Linked DNA regions of Homo sapiens. The protein of the gene in region 2 interacts with the protein of the main gene of each other region in a pairwise test. Each region holds a gene or a part of one and is shown on either strand. Other genes may lie near its edges. The genes, in order: SPECC1L and ZFHX3.

Region 1 (3,917 bases), on a different chromosome or scaffold from region 2:
AATACTTCTCCTTTCACTATATACCCTTCTATGTTGGTTTGGTTATTTTACAACATACATGTATATTGTAATAGCTGTTTTTTTTTTTTTTTGAGACAGAGTCTCACTCTGTCGCCCAGGCTGGAGTGCAGTGGCGAGACCTCGGTTCACTGCACCCTCTGCCTCCTAAGCAATTCTCCTGTCTCGGCCTCCCGAGCCGCTGGGATCACAAGCGTGTGCCACCACGCCCGACTAATTTTTATATTTTTTGTAGAGACGGGGTTTCACCATGTTGGCCAGGCTGGTATCGAACTCCTAACCTCAGGTGATCCACCCGCCTCGGCCTCCCAAACTACTGTGATTACAGGCGTGAGCCAGGGAGCTCGGCCTTGTTATATCTGGTTTTTGTTTTTTTGAGACGGAGCCTCGCTCTGTAGCCCAGGCTGGGGTACAGTGGCGCGAACTCGGCTCACTGCAACCTCCGCCTCCCGGGTTCAAGCGATTCTCCTGCCTCACCCTCCTGAGTAGCTGGGATTACAGGCGCGCGCTTTTTGTATTTTTAGTAGAGACAGGATTTCACCATGTTGGTCAGGCTGGTCTTGAACTCCTGACTTCAGGTGATCCGCCCGCCCCGGCCTCCCAAAGTGCTGGGATTACAGGCATGAGGCACCGCGCCTGGCCTGGTTTTTAATTACGAAGAAAAAATTACTATAGTCCCTTTGGTATCACCTACATTGGCAAAATTGCAGTCCCCCTCCACTCCCTGAAGCCACCAGAAATGACTGCTGTTGTCTACAAAGCCTACAGCTCTGATTTCATCTCAAGATGTGTCCTACTGGGTGACAGCAAATGCCATTTTTTAAAGGCTTGTATCTGTTATAAGCTTGGGAAATATTATCATGGCTTAAGAGGCTCTTTTGACAAAAGAAAACACTGTTCCCTGAAATCACCTGGGCTGTTCACGGGAATCTTTTCCTCGCCCTTCTGGTACTTGGACAAATGATCAAGGATATCAACAAATCAAGGTTCCCCGCATTTGAATGATCACAGAATTTTTGCGTGTTCTGTAAATGGGCTAAAACTACTGGAAACTGATTTCTTTTCGTCATCTCCAGGGCAGCTTGCCCAACGTGCCGCGACTATGATGTCTTAGACTTAACTACTTAAGGTAATACAATTACCAAATTCCTGGAAACGCAAAATTTCCTCAGACAGGTACCGGATTATTCACATCCAACCTGATGCAATTAACCACGTCTCAAGAAAAAAGGACGTTCCGTCCGCCTCGGGCGCCGGCCACAGCAGAAGCAGCACCGGCAGCAGGCCCGGGGTCCGCCGCCTGTGGCCCCTGCTCCTCCGCTCTGCGCCCTCGGGGCCACTGAACAACGCTGTCCCCGCCCCAGGCAAGGGACCCGGGCGATGGGGCGGCAGCCCCAGCCTCTCCCGGAGCGGCGGAAAGGCAAGCACGAGGGTCGCACCCGGCCTGTCTGCACACAGTCAAGCCGCAAGCGGGGTCCCAGAACCAGCTGAACCCCAACACCAACGGACGAAGGCCAGTGGGTCTCGGCGGCGAAGCCTGCGGGTTGTTCCAGAAGCCCCGAAGCCCAGAACGAGGACGGCGCGGGAAGGGAAAGGCGCAGGCGCGGGACACACTGGAGGGGCCCAGGAGCAGAGACGGCGCAGGCGCTGGGCCTGCCGGGGTCTGCGGGGACGCCCGGGCGCGGCAGCGCGGGCGGCGCTGAGGCGATAAACCAACCCGCCAGCGAACACTGCGGGAACCCGGCTGCTGCTCTTACCGCGCTGCACCGCATCGCTCCCTCGCAATCTCCTGGTTTGGGCTGGGCGGTGAGCTCACCCGGTGGCTCAGCCGAGACCCGTTGAGTCCGGCCTCAGGAAAGCAGCCTACCCCGCAGCGCCGCTTGCCGGGCCGCCCGGCCTCCCTCGCGGGCCCCGCCCTTGGCCAGCCCCTTCGCGCCCAGCAGGGCTGCGGCCGTCTGCGCAGGCGTCGTGGAGGCCCCGCCTACATTCCTTCACTGCGCAGGCGCCGCCGTCCCCCACCACCACCCCCTCCCCTTCCCCCATCTCCGGCTCGCGTCCGTCTCGGCACTGGGTCGCGCAGCCGCTCTGCCACTTGGCCGGTCAAGAAAGTAGCCGGCCAGCCGGTGCGCATGCCTCAGGTCTTGGGCTGGAGCCGGGCAAGGCGGGTCCCTTCAGAGGCCCCACTGGGCCCAGCGGAATGATGCTCAGAGTCCGCTAGTCCCAAAAGTTCTCCTCAGCGTGTTTACCGTGTGCCAAGGACTGTGCTATGCATGAGCCAGACAGCAGTGAGGAAAACACAAAGCCCTGTCCTCCTGGCACTCCCGGTACATAAGGGAACAGACAAAAAGAATAAGCGAGCAACATATATGTATATATATATGTATATACATATATATATACGTATATATATATACGTATATATATATGTATATATATACATATATATATACGTATATATATATGTATATATATGTGTATATATATACATATATATATGTATATATATATATATATATATATAAAATATTAAAGAAATTCTGGGGGAGTTCGAGTTCCATCGGCCCCCATCCGGGCCACCCTGCCACCTTAGCGGCTGCTCCTCCCCAGAATGCTGATGCCTAAGAAAAACCGGATTGCCATTTATGAACTCCTTTTTAAAGAGGAAGTCACGGTGGTCAAGAAGGATGTCCACATGCCTAAGCACCTGGAGTTGGCAGACAAGAATGTGCCCGGCCGGGCGCGGTGGCTTAGGCCTGTAATCCCAGCACTTTGGGAGGCCGAGGCGGGCGGATCACGAGGTCAGGAGTTCAAGACCAGCCTGGCCAAGATGGTGAAACCCGTGTCTACTAAAAATACAAAAATATTAGCCAGGCGCGGTGGCAGACACCTGTAATCCCAGCTAGTCGGGAGGCCAAGGCAGGAGAATTGCTTGAACCCAGGGGGCGGAGGTTGCAGTGAGCCGAGATCGCGCCCCTGCACTCCAGCCTGGGCGACAGAGTGAGACTCCTCTCAAAAAAAAAAGAATGTGTGTGCCCAACCTTCCTGTCATGTAGTCCCGAGGCTACTACGTGAAGGAACAGTTTGCCTGGAGACATGTCTACTGGTACCTTACCAATGAGGATATCCAGTATCTCCGTGATTACCTTCATCTGCCCCTGGAGATTGTGCCTGCCACCCTACGCCGCAGCCGTCCAGGGACTGGCAGGCCTCGGTCTAAAGGTCTGGAGGGTGAGCGACCTGCAAGACTCACAAGAGGAGAAGCCGACAGAGATACCTACAGAAGGAGTGCTGTGCCCCCTGGTGCCGACAAGAAAGCCGAGGCTGGGGCTGGGTCAGCAACCGAATTCCAGTTTAGAGGCAAATTTGGTCGTGGACACCGTCAGCCACCTCAGTAGAATTGGAGAGGATTATTTTGCATTGAATAAACTTACAGCCAAAAAGACTTAAAAAAAAAAAAAGAAAAAAATTGTATTATGTCGCAAATGAACCTGTTGCAATGATCATACAGGTTTTTTCCTTTGATAGTTTGTACTACTTTAATAGTTTTTTCTTTTATTACATAATCTTAGTTTCCTAGGAAAACCCCAACTTGGTCGTGATACATGTTTAATCCATTGCTGGATTATTTGCTAATATTTTATTTAGCGTTTTTGCATATATGTCCATAAGAAGTTAGTCCATACTTTTGCCTCCTTGTACTATTTATGTCTGGTTTGGTTTTAAGCCTATACTAAATTCACAGTGAGTTGGGGAGAATTCCATTTGCTTCTTTTTCTGAAAGATTATCTAGGCTGGGCACTGTGGCCTACGCTTGTAAAACTAGCATTTTGGGAGGCCGAGGTGGGCGGATTACCGGAGGTCGGGAGTTCAAGAACAGCCTGGCCAACATGGTGAAACCC
Region 2 (3,917 bases):
AGTTATCCATTAGTTCAACTTACCGTTCATATCTTTCTGTCATAAACACTAGATCCAATTCCCATTTCAAAAAAGTTGAACCTACCTTTCTCATGGCTATCAATCAGTAAAACTTTTTTGCCTGCAATTGTGTCAAGCATCAAAAACTTTCATATAAATATTTGAATTAAAAATCTAGTTGCTATTAGGGCACTCTAGGGCCAAATATCGTCCAAGATATCAGACTCACCCCTCCCAATGAAGAAACGCAGACGGCATCATGGCCCAAACTTCTGACATTCATGAGCCCCAGGAGATGGGAAATACAAGCGTCTTTAGAAACACTAAAGGGCTCGTGTACATCCTTTTGTACCTTGGGATAAGTACTCCCTGCACACACAACCTCAAGGTATTCACATTTATACTTTGCCAGCCATCAGCCTCTCTCTCCTGCACACACACATGCATGTGCACAAATGTGGTAACAGAGACAGGAGCTTTTGCTCATATTTTTTTTTTAATGTATCACAATGAGCAGGAAACATACTTGATGAAATATTTTCAAAGGAGTATATTCAATTACCATCTACAATCAACTTAACTATGACAACAAAGTTTTTGTGACAAATTTTTTTTTCAGTTTGAAAGTTCCATGTGGTTCTGTTTGTTAGTCTCCATGTATTTTGGTACAGTTCGAGATCAGCATTGTTACAGTAACAAAAAAGCTAACAAGACTACATTATAGAAAAACACCAAGAACATCATTTTTGGTTTCACTTGCTCTATTTTTTTTGTTGTTTTTTGTTTTTTTTTCTTTTTGTACATTGCAAAGGCTGTTCATATACCTCTTCACCTCAGGGTCACGTTCATTTATGCTTTCTTTCCTACCCAAACTTGCCCCCCTCCCCCCTGAAGAAAGTAAACAAACAAAAAACTAGTCAAAGCTTTGTTTCACAGTGGGCAGTATCTCAGCGCCAACAAACAACTCAATTTATGCTTCTATTTAAAATGTTTTAATTTATTATTTAAAAAAAATATATGTCCATGAACATCAAGTGCACTGGCTTGGGTCACTGCCTCTCTCTCCTGCAACTTCCTGCCATGCCTGATAAACTCAGGTTTAAACACATGCCGTCTGTTTTACTTTATTTTCAATTGTGTAAAACTTTGGCCACATTCATCTCTTTAAATAGCTTGTAATTAAAAAAAAAATTCCTAGATGTATTAAATTTTTCCTTGTGTAGATATGTGGTTTTTGGAAGGATGGAGGAAAGATGGATGAAATAACTCCCATTCTGTGGGTCAGACTGGTGTCTAGCACCAACCCACACTATAGGGAGAAAACCAAAAAACGAGTGTCAATGGAGGTGAAGAACTAATTTAAAAAGCAAGTGGAAATATATCCTACCCAGCTACCTACAATGCAGCAGACAGGAATAAATTCCCCAAGTGAGATAAAGCTAAACAAACAGTTGAGCATTGTAGTGAATTCATGCTTTGTAAATAGTACTGGTCATAGCCACGATGGCTGTCAGCCCACAAACATCTAACTCATGTTTGACCTCTAATGTTCACCATCACTGACTGCTTTGCTACTTCTGGGTTAGTGCTGAGAATTATTCTTACTTTTTTCAATGAACATATATGTGGGCGGTTTAGTTGCAGAGGAAAGCATTAAGGGTGCAACCCACTCCAGGTTGAAACAATCACATAACCCCTCTGAGAACACTAGGTGGGTGGAAGTGTGCTCAGCCAATCTATTCAACCACCTTATTGTCGCCAAACACCCACAGCTCAAGGCATGGCATAACAAAACACTGACAGTCACTCTGCCTCACAGAGGGAGGATGGCATAGTAGCTCCATGAAAAAAAAAAACAAAAACAAAAACAAAAACCCAAACCATCAGGGAGGGGGCAGCAAAATTATAAAGAAAAGAACTTAAAAGTTGAGGGGGGAGGGAAAAGGATAGAAATTGCACTATTACCAAGCAATATCATTTTTAAAAACAACGTTTTCAGAGAAGACCTAGCAGAATTTGACAGGTAAAGCTAGTGTTACATTGTTAACTGATATCACATAGAGAACCAAAAACAAAAACAATTTTTTTTCTATATGGTACAGACACAGAGTAACATACAACAGTTAAATGGCAAAAAATATATATATATATATTTCATAGAGTTACAAACAAGATAAAATAATGGAAAACAAAAAACTGTACAACTTTAAAATTTAAAAATGTTCATCTCAAACACAGGAAGAAATACAAGATTTCTTGTTAAAAGGAAATAGCTTGTTAAAACAGTAAATGTTTTGCGTACTTGCTTTTGACACCTTATGCTACAACTGGATACTGGTATGAATAGTTAGATGGTATTCTTTCTTTAGTATTTCTACTTAAAAAAAACAATTAAAAAAGGAATTTGCACTGTGCATCAGCCTAGTTAGAAATATGTACAACATTTCAGGATCTACTATTTCATTAAACTAAAAACAAATTCATAAAAATAAAATAGTCCCGGCTAAAAAAGAAAAAAAGAAAAAAAATCCATTTTCAGATCTTGGAATGCTCCAGTCTTTTGCAAAGTCGATGAGTGGCTTCAGCACTGGGGAAAGAAGCCCGAAAGGTGACCAATGGAACCTGTATTCACAGTCTTCAAAGTTCCCTTTTGAAACATAAGGAAGAAAACGAAGGGAAGAAGGATTTCACACTTTGGGGGCAAGGGGAGATGGTTTCTGTTGATGTTTAGCTATGAAAGTGAAACAGCAAAGCATCTATTTATTTGTCTCCAAAATCTATGTTTTAGCAGCACAAAGTTTTCAAAGTTCAGACCATTTATTTATTTTTCTTTTTACATGAGAAAGGGTGTGTGTTAACAGGAATATGGATATTAACAGAAACAAGTGCCTCACATACAGTTCCTTTTTTGCTTTCTGTACACTGCTATCTGCTGCTTTGTTGGCTGCGCTCTGGATCACTCGCTGCTCAGACTGCCTAACACAAGGACAAAACTTTGAAGTAAAAAATGTGTCTTTTGGTATATGGAATTGTCATTAACATTTGCCTCTCTGCTTGCAGAAGAAGCACATAACAACCTGGGAATCTTTTGTTTTTCTCTTTCTTTTATTAAACTAAGTCTTGTTTGTTTAAATCAGAAACAAATTCTCAAGTAACAAGAACCCTTTCCCTTTTTTCTGCATCAGCAGTGAAAGGGTGTGTCTTTGGATTTTATTTAAAGCATGAAATTTTTTTTTCTGAGAGAGGAAAGAAAAAACAAACACAAAACCAAAAACCAAATCCCTAACCAAAAACTTTTTTTAGAAAAGAAAAGTACACAGCCAATTACACAAATGGAAACAAATCCTTTAGTATAGAAAAAAAAAGAATATTTGAAGCTCCTACCAAACAAGGAGGAAAAGAAGGGGTACAAAGAAAAAAAAGCCAAAAGAAGGATAAATAAAAAATAAATGCACAAAGCTAACAGACACAGGTAACTAGAATTATATGCCTTTAAAAAGTTTCAACTCCCCAACCAAAAATAATCTGTGAGGATCCTAATGACCCCTAGAATCCCTTGAAATTCTTTCTTTAGTTTTATAAAATAATTCTGCAGCTCCCTCTAAGAAATGAAGGCAGCTACCTTAAGTGGGAGATTATAGGACGGGAGGTGGGAGAAGGAAAGAGAAAGTGGAATTAAGGGACAAGAAAGAGAAAGTGGAATTAAGGGACAAGGGGAGAAAAGCTTAGGCGAATCAACGGATTGCAATCTATCATCTGCTAGGAATGAACAAGACAACATCAAATGAGGAGCTGTCAGCTGGACCATACAAAAAGCTAAATGTACACAAAAGGTTTTTTTTTTTTTTTCCTTTTAAATCTACCATACTGCTTCAGTTCATTTCCAATGCAACAATCTACTCAACACCAAAAATGGT

Evidence for each region.
Region 1: the proteins of ZFHX3 (region 2) and SPECC1L interact in binary tests that used the Homo sapiens proteins (3 or more experiments, as listed by UniProt).

The regions. Positions count from the first base shown.
Region 1 is NC_000022.11:24,268,842-24,272,758, reverse strand, and holds the start of SPECC1L (cytospin-A), read right to left. Parts: upstream 1,929-3,917; 5' UTR 1,776-1,928; intron 1-1,775. UniProt on the Homo sapiens protein: Involved in cytokinesis and spindle organization. May play a role in actin cytoskeleton organization and microtubule stabilization and hence required for proper cell adhesion and migration.
Region 2 is NC_000016.10:72,782,408-72,786,324, forward strand, and holds the end of ZFHX3 (zinc finger homeobox protein 3), read right to left. Parts: 3' UTR 478-3,917; downstream 1-477.